Regions from separate parts of the Homo sapiens genome. Here region 2 is linked to region 1. A link means that fine-mapping ties the variant in region 1 to the plasma level of a protein whose gene starts in the linked region. Region 1 holds a variant in brackets. A gene starts in the other region. All regions are shown on their reverse strands. Region 1 holds the start of PM20D1 (peptidase M20 domain containing 1). Region 2 holds the start of TOP1 (DNA topoisomerase I).

Evidence for each region. PIP is the posterior inclusion probability: the model's chance that the variant is causal. Protein levels are from antibody-based Olink assays in UK Biobank. Linkage for the fine-mapping came from a reference panel and not from the study's own genotypes, which makes the PIPs less certain.
Region 2: TOP1 starts here. The variant in region 1 is fine-mapped to the plasma level of the TOP1 protein (UK Biobank, PIP above 0.99).

What each region holds. Positions count from the first base shown.
Region 1 is chr1:205,847,502-205,856,981 of GRCh38, reverse strand. PM20D1 (peptidase M20 domain containing 1) reads left to right here and starts at 6,850. Exons shown (of 13, transcript NM_152491.5): 1 at 6,850-7,078; 2 at 9,011-9,097. The coding sequence starts at 6,910. It overlaps LOC107985250 (a long non-coding RNA gene), which reads right to left and starts at 2,227. Exons shown (of 2, transcript XR_001738417.2): 1 at 1-2,227. RefSeq lists an enhancer at 6,627-6,921. The variant A/G (reference allele first, on the strand shown) is at 9,217.
Region 2 is chr20:41,027,502-41,032,499 of GRCh38, reverse strand. TOP1 (DNA topoisomerase I) reads right to left here and starts at 3,678. Exons shown (of 21, transcript NM_003286.4): 1 at 3,400-3,678; 2 at 3,045-3,069. The coding sequence starts at 3,432. RefSeq lists silencers at 3,338-3,407, 3,628-3,979.

The DNA.
Region 1 (9,480 bases):
ATTTGGATGTCCTTTATTTCTTTCTCTTGTCCGATTTCTCTGGCTAGGACTTCCAGTACAATATTGAGTAGCAGTGGTGAAAGTAAGAATCCTTTTCTTGTTCCAGTTCTCAGAGGGAATGCTTTCAACTTTTCTCCATTCACTATAATGTCAGCTGTGTGTTTGTCATAGATGGCTTTTATTACTTTGAGTTATGTCCCTTCTATGCTGACTTTGCTGGTGGCTTTCATCATAAAGTGATGCTGGATTTTGGCAAATGCTTTTTCTGCATCCATTGAGATGATCATATAATTTCTGTTCTTAATTCTGCTTATGTGATGTATTACATTTATTGACTTGTGTATGTTAAACCATCCATGCATTCCTGGCATGAAATCCACTTGATCATGGTGTATTATCTTTTTGATATGCTGTTGGGTTCAGTTAGCTAGTATTTTGTTGAGGATTTTCACATCTATGTTCACCAGGGATATTGGTCTGTAGTTTTCTTGTTTTATTATGTCCTTTTCTTGTTTTGCTATTAGGGTGATACTGGCTTCATAGAATGACTTAGGGAGGATTCCCTCTTTCTCTATCTTATGGAATAATTTCAGTAAGATTGGTACCAATTCTTCTTTGAATGCCTGATAGAATTCAGCTGTGTAACCATCTGATCCTGGGCTTTATTTTGTTGGCAATTTTTTAATTACCATTTCAATCTCACTACTTGTTATTGGTTTGTTCAGAGTTTCTATTTCTTCCTGATTTAATCTAGTAGGGTTGCATATTCCCAGGAATTTATCCATCTCCTCTAGATTTTCTAGTTTGTGTGCATAAAGGTGTTCATAGTAGCCTTAAATGATCTTTTGTATTTCTATGGTATCAGTTGTAATATCTTCTGTTTCATTTCTAATTGAGCTTATTTGGATCTTCTCTCTGTTCTTGGTTAATCTCACTAATGGTCTATCAATTTTTTTTATCTTTTCAAAGAACCATCTTTTTGCTTCATTTATCTTTTGTATTGTTTTTTGTTTGTTTGTTTCAATTTCATTTAGTTCTGCTCTGACTTTTGTTATTTATTTTCTTCTGCTGGTTTTGGGTTTGGTTTGTTCTTGTTTCTCTAGTTCCTTGAGGTGTGATCTTAGGTTCTCTATTTGTGTTCTTTCAGACTTTTTGATGTAGGCATTTAATGCTATGAAATGTCGTCTTAGCACCACTTTTGCTGTATCCCAGAGGTTTTAACATGTTCTGTCACTATTATCATTCAGTTCAAAGAATTTTTTAATTTCCATTTTTATTTCATTGTTGATCCAAAGATCATTCAGGAGCAGATTATTTAATTTCCACATATTTGTATAGTCTTGAGGGTTCCTTTTAGAGTTAATTTCCAATTTTATTCCACTGTAGTCTGAGAGAGTACTTGATATAATTTTGATTTTCTTAAATTTATTGAGATTTGTTTTGTGGCCGATCAAATGGTCTATCTTGGAGAATGTTCCATGTGCTGATGAAAAAAATGTATATTCTGAATTGTTAGGTAGAATAGTCTGTAAATATCAGTTAAGTCCATTTGTTCTAGGGTATAGTTTAAGTTCATTGCACTCCAGCGTGGGTGAAAAGAGCAAAACTCAATCTCAAAAAAAAAAGACTCACTACTAAGATGGTCAATATCTCAAGCTCAGGCTTGGTCAGACCTATAACATGCTATCACAAGTATGTGTTAAAGGGCTATGCAGATGAGGGATGCATTAAATTTTGACCATAGGAGGCCTCATTAACCAAATTATATTAAATTATTATATTAAATTAGTAGGCCTCATTAACCAAATTATATTTAAATATTATATTAAAAAGTTCAGAGACATTTTTCTTTTTAAAAAGCCACACATCTAGTGTATGTGTTATGTGAACACAGATTATTCTGTTTAGCACAAGGTGCTTCTGCATGCAGGTGTAGATGTTCCCAGGGTCAATTATTCAAGTGACCTTAGCTACATAGGAGAAATAAATTTTATCTGTCTCTGGGCTTTTTGGAAGAATTCACATATAATTCTGTGGATACCCAAAAACTGAAGAAGAATATGGTTTTATCTTGTCACTTAGCTTATCTAGTTTACTGTCACTATACATTTCCTTTCCTATGTTTGTCTCCTATTTAGTAAAGACTTCCAGCCTTTTCAGCCTGGCCTCAGCTTGGCTACTGGGCATTAATCCCTGAGCCACTCATTTTTGTTTTTTCCTTCCTTCCTTTCTTTTTTTTTTTTTTTTTTTTTTTTCCAGAGACAAGGTCTTGCTCTCTCACTTACGCTTGAGCACAGTGGCACATTCATAGCTTACTGCAGCCTTGAATTCCTGGAATCCAGCAACCCTCCCACCTCAGCCTCCTGTAACTAGGACTACAGGTGCTCGCCACCATGCATGGCTAATCCCAGAGCCATTTGTCCCAGGGTGTTAGAGAGGGGGCTGCTTGCTGCTCCTAGGCCACCTTCTCCCACCTCTGACAACTTTGGAGGGGTTGTTTTTAATTAGATTTAGGAAGGTAATCTCATCACTCTCCATGAGATTTTCATAAGGGGAGGGAGGAGTTCCAAGAATCCTTTTTTCCTCTGACCCATCCTTCCTCAGCTCTGTACTCAATGGGTGGTAGGGATGAGGGAAAAAGACTGATGTTATAGCTCAAAGTTGTTGACTGCCTAGAGGCCTAGAAATGTGTTAGTAATGAATCTGGGGTAGGCCTGAGTACGTGGAGTGTATATGTACCGGTGTGTTTGGGTGTGTAAGGAGGTAGGGGTGGGAGGAGCATGGAACATAGTTCTGGGCAGTTGCACAAGTAGAAGGAAATCCTAGTTCTACTTTTTGATGATTTAACATTTATTGAATGACACATATGTAGGGCAAAGTTTGAGAGAGTTTATACTCTAATGCAATGGCTGGATGAACTCTCAATCGTTGCCCTACATATGGTGGCTTAGTTTTTCCAAGAGCAAATCTACAGTCTCTACTCTGCCCATGGGAATTAGATTGTCCTCTGATCAGTCACAAAATAAACTTCTTTATCACTTTGTAAAAGAACTGTGTCTCCATTGCTATTTCTACCACCCACCCCTTGCCCCTGATTTGCAGCTGACCTTTATGAATGTATTTTCCGAACTCAGCCAGGGCTGTAGTATTGGACTTCTCAGAGCTAAAAGTCACTGTTGGAATCTGGATGGCACCTGTCAGAGTCAAATGGTCAGAGATGAAAGACTGAACATGAATTAATCATTTTTTTTTCTACAGTCCTCTGTGCACAAAAAGTTCTTTTGCCTTCATTATCGTATTGCAGAGGGCAAAACACTAATATGAGGTAGGCACTATTGTTTTCTCTAATTCGAAGATAAGGGAAAAAGCTTGAGTCCAGGAGTTCAAGAGCAGCCTGGGCAAAATAGTGAGACCCTATCTCTACAAAAATAATAATAAATTTAAAAATAATAAATACATAAAATAAAAAGTATCTTTTTAAAAATTTTTAAAGTTTGGTAGAGATTAAGCTATTTTTTACTAAAAATTCATATATATATATATATTTATGACCTTGGACTAGATTTGTTAAGATTTTTTAAGCAAGAAAACATCACTAATTATAAAAGAATATAATAATAAATTCAACTATATTATTAAGACTTCAACCCATCAAAAGGCCATTAAAAAAATAAAAACACAAGACACAAATGAAGAGAAATATTTATAATTTAAATAAAACTGACAAAATTTTAGACTCCACAATATATAGAAACCCTTAAAATTCAATAAGAAGACAGCTCTAAACAAAAATGGGCAATAGATATGAACAGTCATTTTACCAGAGAAACATGAATGGCAAATAAGCATATTTAAAGATGTTTAGGCCAGGCATGGTGGTTCAGCCTGTCATCTCAGCACTTTGGGAGACCAAGGCAGGAGGATCATTTGAGGCCAGGAGTTCAAGACCAGTCTGGGCAACATAGAGAGACACTGTCTCTATAAAAAAACTTCTAAAAATTAGCTGAAGGTGTTGGTGTTCACTTGCAATCTTAACTACTCAGAAGGCTGCGGCAAGAGGATTCTTTGAGCTCAGGAGTTGGAGGCTGCAGTGAGCTATACTTGTGCCACTGAACTCCAGCCTGGGTGACAGAGCAAGACCCTATGATAAATAAATAAATAAATAAATAAATAAAGCTTAAACTCTTTAACAAACTAGAGAGTACAAAATAATACCACAAGGAGATATTTTCCAGGCACTAAATGGGCAAAATGAAGATATTGGAAATGCCAATGCCAAGAGCTAGTGAGAAAGTGAAGCAACAGGAACTTATATACTATGCACTACCTTGCTGATTAGTATAAATTGTTCCAATCACTTTGGAAAATAATTCAGCCTTCTCTTGTAAAATAGAACATACAGTACAACACAGCATTTTCACTCCTAGATATATATTCCAGAGAATCTCTTTTACCTGTGGCCCAGGAGACATGTACAATAATGTCAATAGACTGTAGCAAGATATAACAGCATGCATAAATCCCACAAACAGTGTTGGGTAAAAAGAGCAAATTGCAGAAGACTACACACAACATGATGTCATTTTTATAAGATATACACACACACACACACTATACATATATGTATATCATACATATGTTGTAGAACTATTTAAAACACACAACACGGTCATACAATTACCTTGGGCAGGGAGTTGGAAAATAAAGGCAATAGAACACATGCACCTTCAATGCTACTGATAATTTTCCATGATTGGCTAGATCTGGGAACAGTGTGGGAATTAGACAGATTGCAAGAATTGGAGCAGTGACAGGAGAAAAAATGCAGTTTGACCAGTTAGGTCTAAACTCCAAATCACGGGTGTTCATGTTATTATTTACTTTACATACACGTTGTACGTACTCTTAATTATCAAATATTATGTGATAAGATAATTTAAAGAATATTTAAGGACCAGGAAGTGTTTATGACATAATGTTAAAGGAAAAAAAGCAGAACATAGAACTTTGGATGCAGTATATGCATCTGTTTCATTTTAAAACAGGGACATCCTTCATTTGTGGGTATTTGTGTGCAGAGAAAAAAGATTGGATAACATCAAAATATGATGAGTGAACGTCTCTGGATATTGGGATAGCATGTGATTTTTTTCTTTATACTTAATGTTCCAAATATTTCACAAGGGCATAAATATACATGAATTTTACAATCATAAAAATTGTGCTGGGTGTGGTGGCTCATTCCTGTAATACTAGCACTTTGGGAGGCTTAAATGGGAGGGTTGCTTGAGTCCAGGAGTTCAAGAGCAGCCTGGACAAAATAGTGAAACCCTATCTCTACAAAAATAATAATAATTTTAAAAAATAATAAATATATAAAATAAAAAGTCTCTTTTAAAAAAATTTTAAAGTTAGGTAGAGATTAAGCTACTTTTTACTAAAAATTATGTCAATGTTCATGTTTAAATTTCAACTCTATTTTTAACATTCTAAATCTTAAACTAGGTGGTGAATCCAGAAATGTTCATTATGTTATTTTTTATATCTTTATAATATGTGAAGTATTTCATGATACTGTTTTAAAGTTGCTATTAAAAAGTAACTAGGCAGGGTGTGGTGGCTCACGCCTGTAATCCCAGCACTTTGGGAGGTCGAGGTGGGCAGATCACCTGAGGTCGGGAGTTCGAGACCAGCCTGACCAACATGGAGAAACCCCATCTCTACTAAAAATACAAAATTAGCCAGGCATGGTGGTGCATGCCTGTAATCCCAGCTACTTGGGAGGCTGAGGCCAGAGAATTGCTTGAAACTGGGAGGCGGAGGTTGCGGTGAGCCGAGATCGCCCCATTGCACTCCAGCCTGGGCACCGAGAGAGAAAAAAAAAGAAAAGAAAAGAAAAGTAACTACATGGCTGAATTTTTTTTTTTAAGCAAATCTTAAATGAAATGCAAACACCAGGACTGTGAACCTGTAGCTTTGGTCACAGGTAGCAATATGGCCTTACTGGTTGTATAGCACTTACTGAATTTTTCTTGAGAATTCTAAAATTTGAGAGTGATGCCAGATAAAATTGCATCAAGAAATCTGAAAGGAACGATTTATTCTGGCTTCAGGAAATCTGATTTTATATTTCTGTGACATAAGACAGGTTTTCTTTTTTCCAGAATGATCCTCTACTCTGAATAACCATAAAATTTCACTTGTGGAATACATCAAAATTATTTATACATCAAAATTCTCTTAAATATTTTATAGTAATCTTTCTAAAAATCCTTCAGTCTTACTGTACTTGTCTAGAGTTGCAAAAATGTAGTGTTAACATTAATATTAAAAGCACTTTCAATGAAATTTCTAAACAGGAGCCAACCCTCTGAGCTGGTATTTCAAAGCAGTATCTATAAACAGAGCAATTTGTTCCAATTTCAGATGAAATCAAGCTGGGAACCTAGAGAGCTCCCCCGCCCCAGGATCTAGGGAATTGTAGTCAGGTTCTAAGCTTCGGAAAAAACGAGCAGCAGAGTATGGTCTGATAAGCTTCGTGCATTTTATTTTGCTTTTCCTCCTTTATTTGATTTGTTGTCATACAGGAAAGGATTTATGGGTGAGAGATCAAGTGCGGACCAGACATGACTCTAGCCTGGAGCCCGACCTCACCTCTGCTCTGCAGGAACTGCTGGCCTCAGCACGAAAACCCACAACCCTCGAAAGGCCTTAAGGATCCTGGGCGGGGTCATTCTGTCAATTGGTTGTTCCGCTGTCCTAGCGAAGCGATGATTGGTCAGATCTGGATATGGGGTGTGGCTAAGGCTGTTTGCCGGAATAAGAGCAGAGCTAGGGCCAAGAAACGCTAGTCTGGGCGTTTAGGTCAGAACTACCCCGGTAGCCTGACAGCAGGAGCTCGAGAGAAGCATGGCTCAGCGGTGCGTTTGCGTGCTGGCCCTGGTGGCTATGCTGCTCCTAGTTTTCCCTACCGTCTCCAGATCGATGGGCCCGAGGAGCGGGGAGCATCAAAGGGCGTCGCGAATCCCTTCTCAGTTCAGCAAAGAGGAACGCGTCGCGATGAAAGAGGCGCTGAAAGGTGAACCCGGGTCCCCTTCACCCACCTATGCTCATATGTGGGTCCCTCCCTCCCCAGGTCAACCCGTGACTCCCCGCTTCCGCCGCAAAGCATCTGCTACTGCAGCTGGAGCCCCGACACGCACCCCAGCCCGGCCCCAACACCCTTCCCAGCACATCGTGCCCCTGTCTGGGGACGCCACACTTCCCCCATACCTGGCTCCTGGAACTCTGGTGTGCCCTGCCTAACCTGGAAGCTCCAACTTCACCCCTCTTGGCGTGACCACCGTCCATTCTTTCCCCTGCTTGCCTCGAGTATTACACCAGCTTTCATTTGTACATCAATTTTAACCTTTGAAAGTTTGCATGCCTGATAAATTACTGCGGTGTCGTAAAATAAGACAAATGATATTAGTCTTATCTACAAAGGAGAGAAATTGAGGCTTAGGTCAGCTAAATGATCTTCCCCAGGGCCCCACAGCAAAGAGTGGGCAGTGGGTGACAGCATCTAGTGCCTGTCGGACTCGCTGGGATCAGATGGCTCTAAAGAAAGGGAGTGGAGTGTTCCCGGGGTGTGGGATGTTCCTAATTCTCAATCATAATTGAAGAACATGTCTCCTCTAGATCTCTAATCCAGACCAAAAATTCATCCCTGTTCTGAATCTGCATTTTCCAGGAAACAGGAAAGTTTCTGTTGAGTGCTAGATCCTATGGGATGAAATCCTTCTTTACCATTCAGCTTAGCTCCAGTCTTTTCCCTTTCATTAAGTAATGGATTAAGAGAGACTGCCTGCATAAACATATAGAAGCAGATGCAGGGACCAAAAGCTAACCCCAATAGTTGGATATAGATTGTTCATATGCTAGAGTGACAAGCCTGGGAGGCAGAGCAGGGCTTTCCCAAAGCATAAATAATTCTCTAAAAGGCATTAGACAGCCACTCACAGTCTGCACAGAAGAGAACAAAAGCTACATAAGCTAGAATAGGGACCTCATAGCAACACAGCTTGGAACTCTGAGCAGGGGACAGAACACCTGAGATCAGATCCTTGGGTCTGCCCTTGAGTAGGCACTTGAATCTTTCTGAACCTCGGCTTCCCCATCTATCTGGTGGGCTATGCTATTGTAGGGTTGATCCTTAGCAAAACTGATGAAGTTTGTCTTTCAGAGACCCTTCCTGCCTCAGGTGAATTTGTTTGCACTGTGTTCTTGGAGAGCAGTCTAATTCAATATTCTCATGATTCATGCTTTCCCTCCCAGTGGTTTTGTCTTTGATCATGGAACTCTTTAAAACTGTAAAGTCTTAAAGACTCAAAGGGATGAGCCCAGTGAAGGTTCAGGAACTGAGACAACTGAGTAAGGAGGGTGAGATTATTTTAGGACTGAGGAGTTTGTTTGGAGGCTTCTAAATCCACCCCTTCCCAGGCATTATATGCCCAAAAAGCTGGTCTTGGTTGACAGACTAGTGAGACTCTGCATAAGGAATAAGCCTTTACATACAAAAACACACAAGCCTCATTGATGTAGGGACCCAGGACAGTGGGTGCCTTGAGAATGATGAAGCTTGGATTCATCAAAGCAATTGGTGATTTCAGAGGTAGTGAGGCCTTAGGAAGCAATTTATAGTAGCTTCCCTTCAAGACCAGGATCCAAAAATCCACTTCCCTCCAATCTTAGACTGTATTTGCCTTTAAGAACCATATCAGCCTAAACAAACCCAGAAGACATAGGTTTAAATCTATAGTCTGCCTGTTGCTCAGACAGCTCACCTAACCTCTCCAAGCATTTTCCCTCATCTTCGAATTAGAGGAAACAATAGCGCCTACCTCACATTAGTGTTTTGCCCTCTGCAATATGATAATGAAGGCAAAAGAACTTTTTGTGCACAGAGGACTGTAGAAAAAAACAATGACTAATTCATTTTCAATCTTTCATCTCTATTTGACTCTGACAGGTGCCATCCAGATTCCAACAGTGACTTTTAGCTCTGAGAAGTCCAATACTACAGCCCTGGCTGAGTTCGGAAAATACATTCATAAAGGTCAGCTGCAAATCAGGGGCAAGGGGTGGGTGGTAGAAATAGCAATGGAGACACAGTTCTTTTACAAAGTGATAAAGAAGTTTATTTTGCGACTGATCAGAGGACAATCTAATTCCCAT[A/G]GGCAGAGTAGAGACTGTAGATTTGCTCTTGGAAAAACTAAGCCACCATATGTAGGGCAAAGATTGAGAGTTCATCCAGCCATTGCATTAGAGTACAAACTCTCTCAAATTTTGCCCTACATGTGTGTCATTCAATAAATGTTAAATCATCAAAAAGTAGAACTAGGATTTCCTTCTACTTGTGCAACTGCCCAGAACTATGTTCCATGCTCCTCCCACCCCTACCTCCTTACACACCCAAACACACCGGTACATATACACTCC
Region 2 (4,998 bases), not on the chromosome of region 1:
CAGATAGCTACGCAGCCTGTACAGTACTGTAATAATGACTCAGCCCCACTACAGTTAGTTCTACCAATACTTAGGAAGTCTTTTCACTTAGACTTAGATATGGTTTCTGCTCCAAATTCCTAACTCACTGTCAACATTTTAAATATAAATAACAGAGTCTCCCAGCAGTTGAGTATGGGTCAGAATGTTCTAAATTACATGCAAAGAGCTACAATTTTAAATATTGCGAAGAATGAGCTCCAAAGTGGGGGGACGGGGGGGAATCTTTTATATCTTAGGGGATGAGGGCAGGCAAAATGAGAGACGTTTGATTTTAATATATGAACTTGTACAGTTAATCTGTAAGATGGGTTAGGCCCTCTTAAAATCACGCTTAAACAATCTCTTAATACAAAGTTCAATAATGACATGTCTGGGCATAATTAAACATTGATTTCTACTTTTTTTAAAGTTTTTTTCATAGTTACATAAATCAATCACTGGTTAACAATGTATTACTTGAGATAGCAAGCATAGTTACCAACACCACATCTTCCAGACAATATTCACAAAGAATAATTACACCAATGTCAGAACTTTATGGTGGCAGATTCTCTTCAAAAAGCATGTTTAGATAAAAAGCAAATGACAAATTATCAAATCCTTCCTTCTCTCCTTTTTCAGCTCTGTAAGAAAATAGAGATTTGTGGCTTTTTATTTTTTCATGCTAGTATCATATAGTATCACTCTAGCATAGTGGCTCAGCTCATGGGATTTAGAGTGGCCAACTCACAGCCCTTGGGCAAGCTAGTAAATACACTGAAGCCTCAGTTTCCTCATCTACAAAACAGAAATAACAGGACCTAACTCACAAGGGTCCTTCCAAGGATTACATTTAATTAGATGATCCATGGAAAGAGCTGAGATTCATGCCTGGCAGTAAGTATTCAATAAATATTAGCTATTATTGCTATTAAATGTGAGCCAACACATTCTAAAAGTCAACATACGCAGATTACTTCAGCCTCTATAAAAATGTCAGTAAAGATCAATAACCTAGCCAGCTCACAATCATTCACGTGACTTAGGTGAGAACCATGTAAGTTAACTTTCTCACAAGAAAGGGCTAAACTTTGTTTCATTACTTACATTACCTACTCAGCCCAGCCTGACAGCCAAAAGAACACATTCCATATTAAAGATCCCACCTTCCTCTAGCAAGGTCAAAAGGACTTCTTACATCCTCACCTGCACATCCTTTCTTTGCTCCTGTATCCCAAAGAAACATGTCTATACTGTGGCTTTCTAAACTGCAGGCCTCACCTCCTCCCTCTTTTAAAATCGTGATAGGTTGGTTAAACGTACTTAAGAAACACTCCAACCCCTGACAATTCTCTGCGCCCAGTCTTCCACAACCCCCAGCTCAGAAGTCACCTCCTCTGAGAAATTTCCCCACCCTCAGACAAAATTAACTCCCCTATACTTCAAAGCATTTTGGGTACACATATGCCCCAGTAGTTACCTTATAATTAACTAATTATGTCTCCCCCAATAGACTGAATTGAGAGCAAGGGAGTGTTATGGTTACAGGATCAGCTCTAGCACCAAGCACAGTGGTTGGCACATATCTGGTGCTCAAGAAATGCCATACTTTAAACCAGATTCTCTCCTGGCTGAGTACCATCTCCTGCTGGATGCCCCACTTCAAACTCTGAACATAAGGTTGCTCTCAGTAGAGCAGGCTAACATGATGGACTGCTGATTACAACATTAGAAAACCTACTCATCAACTTCTCCCATTGGAGAGGTTCCCGGAACCCAAACTCAATTGAGCAGGATTATGTACCATCAAAATCAGTGGGAATTCCCAGCACACTACAGAAGGTAACTTCTCCTTCAACAGGGTTGTTCGAAAGCCTGCAAGGATGAGCTTTTTATTGGAGGACTCTTCCCTGGGTAACTGAAGTGGAAATACAGTAAGAATAAATGCCTTGATTTGGCTGAAAAGGGTTCAAAAACATAAAGAATTGGGAAAAAAAAAAAAAGCCAGTTCTTGATTCCTGAAAAACAGTGGCTCGTGAAAAAGAATGAACAGGAAGCAGGGGTGGGTACTGGACACTCTTTGCTTCAATAAATAAAATCTTTTTTTCCTCCTTACAACCCAAACGAAAAGGCCAACACACCAGGTCCACAAGAGATGCTCAACAATCTTTCCTTCCAACAAGTACACTAAACTGCGTTTCCAGAAAAACACTGCATTGGGAACCTCGACCACAATGAAAAGTTCCAGTGACTAACATAATTTTTTAAAAATCCAACATTTACATTGGGTGACCCACAGAGAACTTGCAAACTTTCTTTAGGGAGGTACTGCTACCTTTGCAAAGAACGTAACTTGGGAAAAACAACCTGGAAATATAAAGAACTCCACAAAGCGTGGCTTTAGTTTTAGAGCCATAATTCCTATCATAAACAGCCTATCAAAAAAAAAATTAACAGTTGCTTAAGGAAATCTTTCATTCTGGAAGCAGAAAAGGAAACAAACATGAAGCATAAAGGGAATAACCCCCAAAATAAAGTTTAAAAAATAATAATTCAGTCCCCCAGCCTTCCCTCTCTGGTGAAGTATGTGATTTATACGGCTTTGCTCTGCAGAAAGCTCATTCTGGGCAGCTCAAGGAAAGAGCCGAGGGAGGGAGAGAAAGAGACACAGGCACAGAAAGGAGAGGAGAGAGAAAAAGAAAATGGCGCAGAGACTAAGTCCCGACCGTCGACAAGGCGACTTTCCCGGGAGGAATCCCGGCCCGGAAAGACCGCCCGAGGCCCGGTGGCGGACGACACGGGGTCTCCGTTGTCCCCTCTTGGGAGGGCCGGGATCTGGAGGAGCTGGGGTCCCCGGAAAGGGGGTCAAGAGGCGGCCCGATGGGAACAATGGGGCCGGTGAGCGAGGAGCCGGGACTTAGTCTCTGGGACGCCATGTCTGTCCTCTGCCCGGCACCGGCAGGGCGCGGGGGAGGCGGCCGGCGGCTGGGGGGCCCCGGAGTCGGCGCAGGGGGCACACTCACCATTCAATCGGAAATCCGCTTCGATCTGGAAAAAGAAAAGGAGAGAATATCAAACAACAGCCACTTTAACCCCTCCGGCGGCGAGCGCGCGCGGCCGGGGTCTGGCTCACCCTGCGCCCCCGGGGAGGACGGGGACCCGGGGGTGGCCACAGAGGGCAGCCATCCCTGCCTCGAACTGTAACTTCGCGGCCCTCGCTCGCGGCCTAGCGAGCCGATCTACTCCGGCAGGCGGCCCCTCACCGGGGGCTCCGGCCTGTCAAAGCTGCCGGGCCGGGGCTGGGGTCGGGGCCTGCGCCGGGGGTCGCGGGACGGCCAGGCCGGGGTCCGGGGCCGCCAGGGTCAGGCCGGGCCGTACCTGGGAATCGTTGTGGAGGTGGTCCCCACTCATGTCGGCCCGGAGGGACGAGCGCGGCGGCAGGCGAGGCGGCGTGGGGGAGACGCAGACGGCGAACCGGCCTGTGCGGGCGGACGGGGACTCCGGAGGCTCGAGGAGGCGCAGGTAAGCGGCGGTGACTGTGGGCCCGAGACTCCAGAAACGGCTGAGGCTGCTACCACGGCGGCGACGCTGCCTGACTGCCGGGCGGGCGGCGAGAACAGACCCCAGCAGTTGTGTAACAGCCTAAGTTCGCATTTGGGCTCACTGCGCCTGCGCGGCCGCTTTTAAACAACACGTCGGCGACGTCAGCGCTCGCGGAAAGAGGCAGAGGGTTGCGGCCCGCCCCCTCGCTGTTCGCCAGACGGACCTGTCTTTGCATCGCAAGCCCCGCCTCCGGACCGTGCGCGCTCCGCTGTGATTTGCATAAGGAGCCGACTCCTCCCACGGCGTCCCACCCCAAGCAGCCTCCCCTTCCTCTCCAGACGCTTTTTCTCGGAACCCCAGCCCCTCTGCTAGGCAGTGCGCAGGCGCCACCCGGGCACCGCCTCCGGACCAGGGCTGGCCGCGCAGCCACGTGGTGGGCCTTTAAAGGCCGCGGCGGGACCCAGCAATCTTGGGCAGAGCTGGTATCCGGCGTCCGCATCTCCTTGGAGCGGCGAGTACCTTGGCAGCTGGGACCCCAGAGGTCTCCCCAGCGCCTCCTTTCTTGCTAAGCCGACCCTGAGGCCGCCTGGTGGGAGGAGTCCCCTCCCCAGCCTTTGTCCAGGCCCTCCAACTTCTGGATTATTTCACGCCCACTTTTTAAAAATTATTTTAATTTTTCAACCAACCAAGGGTCCGGTTTAACCCCAGTTTTCCGCCGAGTACATGTAGCCCTGGGTCACCAAGGGTCTGATTTCTTTGGTTCATTCTACAAATACTTATTGAGCATCCGCTATGAGCCCAGGAATTGTGCTGAGGGAAGGGGGAATGCAAGAGACCAAAGGGAACTGAACCTGTCTCTATCCGCCCCTGTATCCCTGGCATGCTGGGAGGACGGGGCAAATGGGGAATAGAACTACCGTTTATAGAGCATCTATTCTGTGCCCAGCTCTGAATTCTCACAATAGCTCTGTGAGGTCGCCTGTATTACAAAAGTCAAACTGTCCTAAAGACAAGGGACCAACAGCCAGCTACCTTGCATCTATAGTTGGATACCTCTCAAGCTTCTCTGGGAATGAACTGAACTCCACTCAGCTAGAAAAAGCCCCATCCTGACACCTTCCTTTCCCTCATTTCCCACTAGTCCCGCTGATTGCATCTCTTTGCTTCATCTACTTCTCTCTGCTGCCCATAAGCCTTTGAAGTCTGCGTTCTCCTGCTTGGATTAATACAATGTGCTGGCTGGGGGTGGTGTCTCACACTTGTAATCTTAGCACTTTGGGAGGCCGAGGCTGGCAGATCACTTGAACCCAGGAGTTCAAGACCAGCCTGGGCAACATGGCAGAACCCTGACTCTACAAAAAAATACAAAAACTGGCGGGGTGTGGTGGCATGTGCCTGTAGTCCCGGCTACTCGGGAGGCTGAGGTGGGAGGAT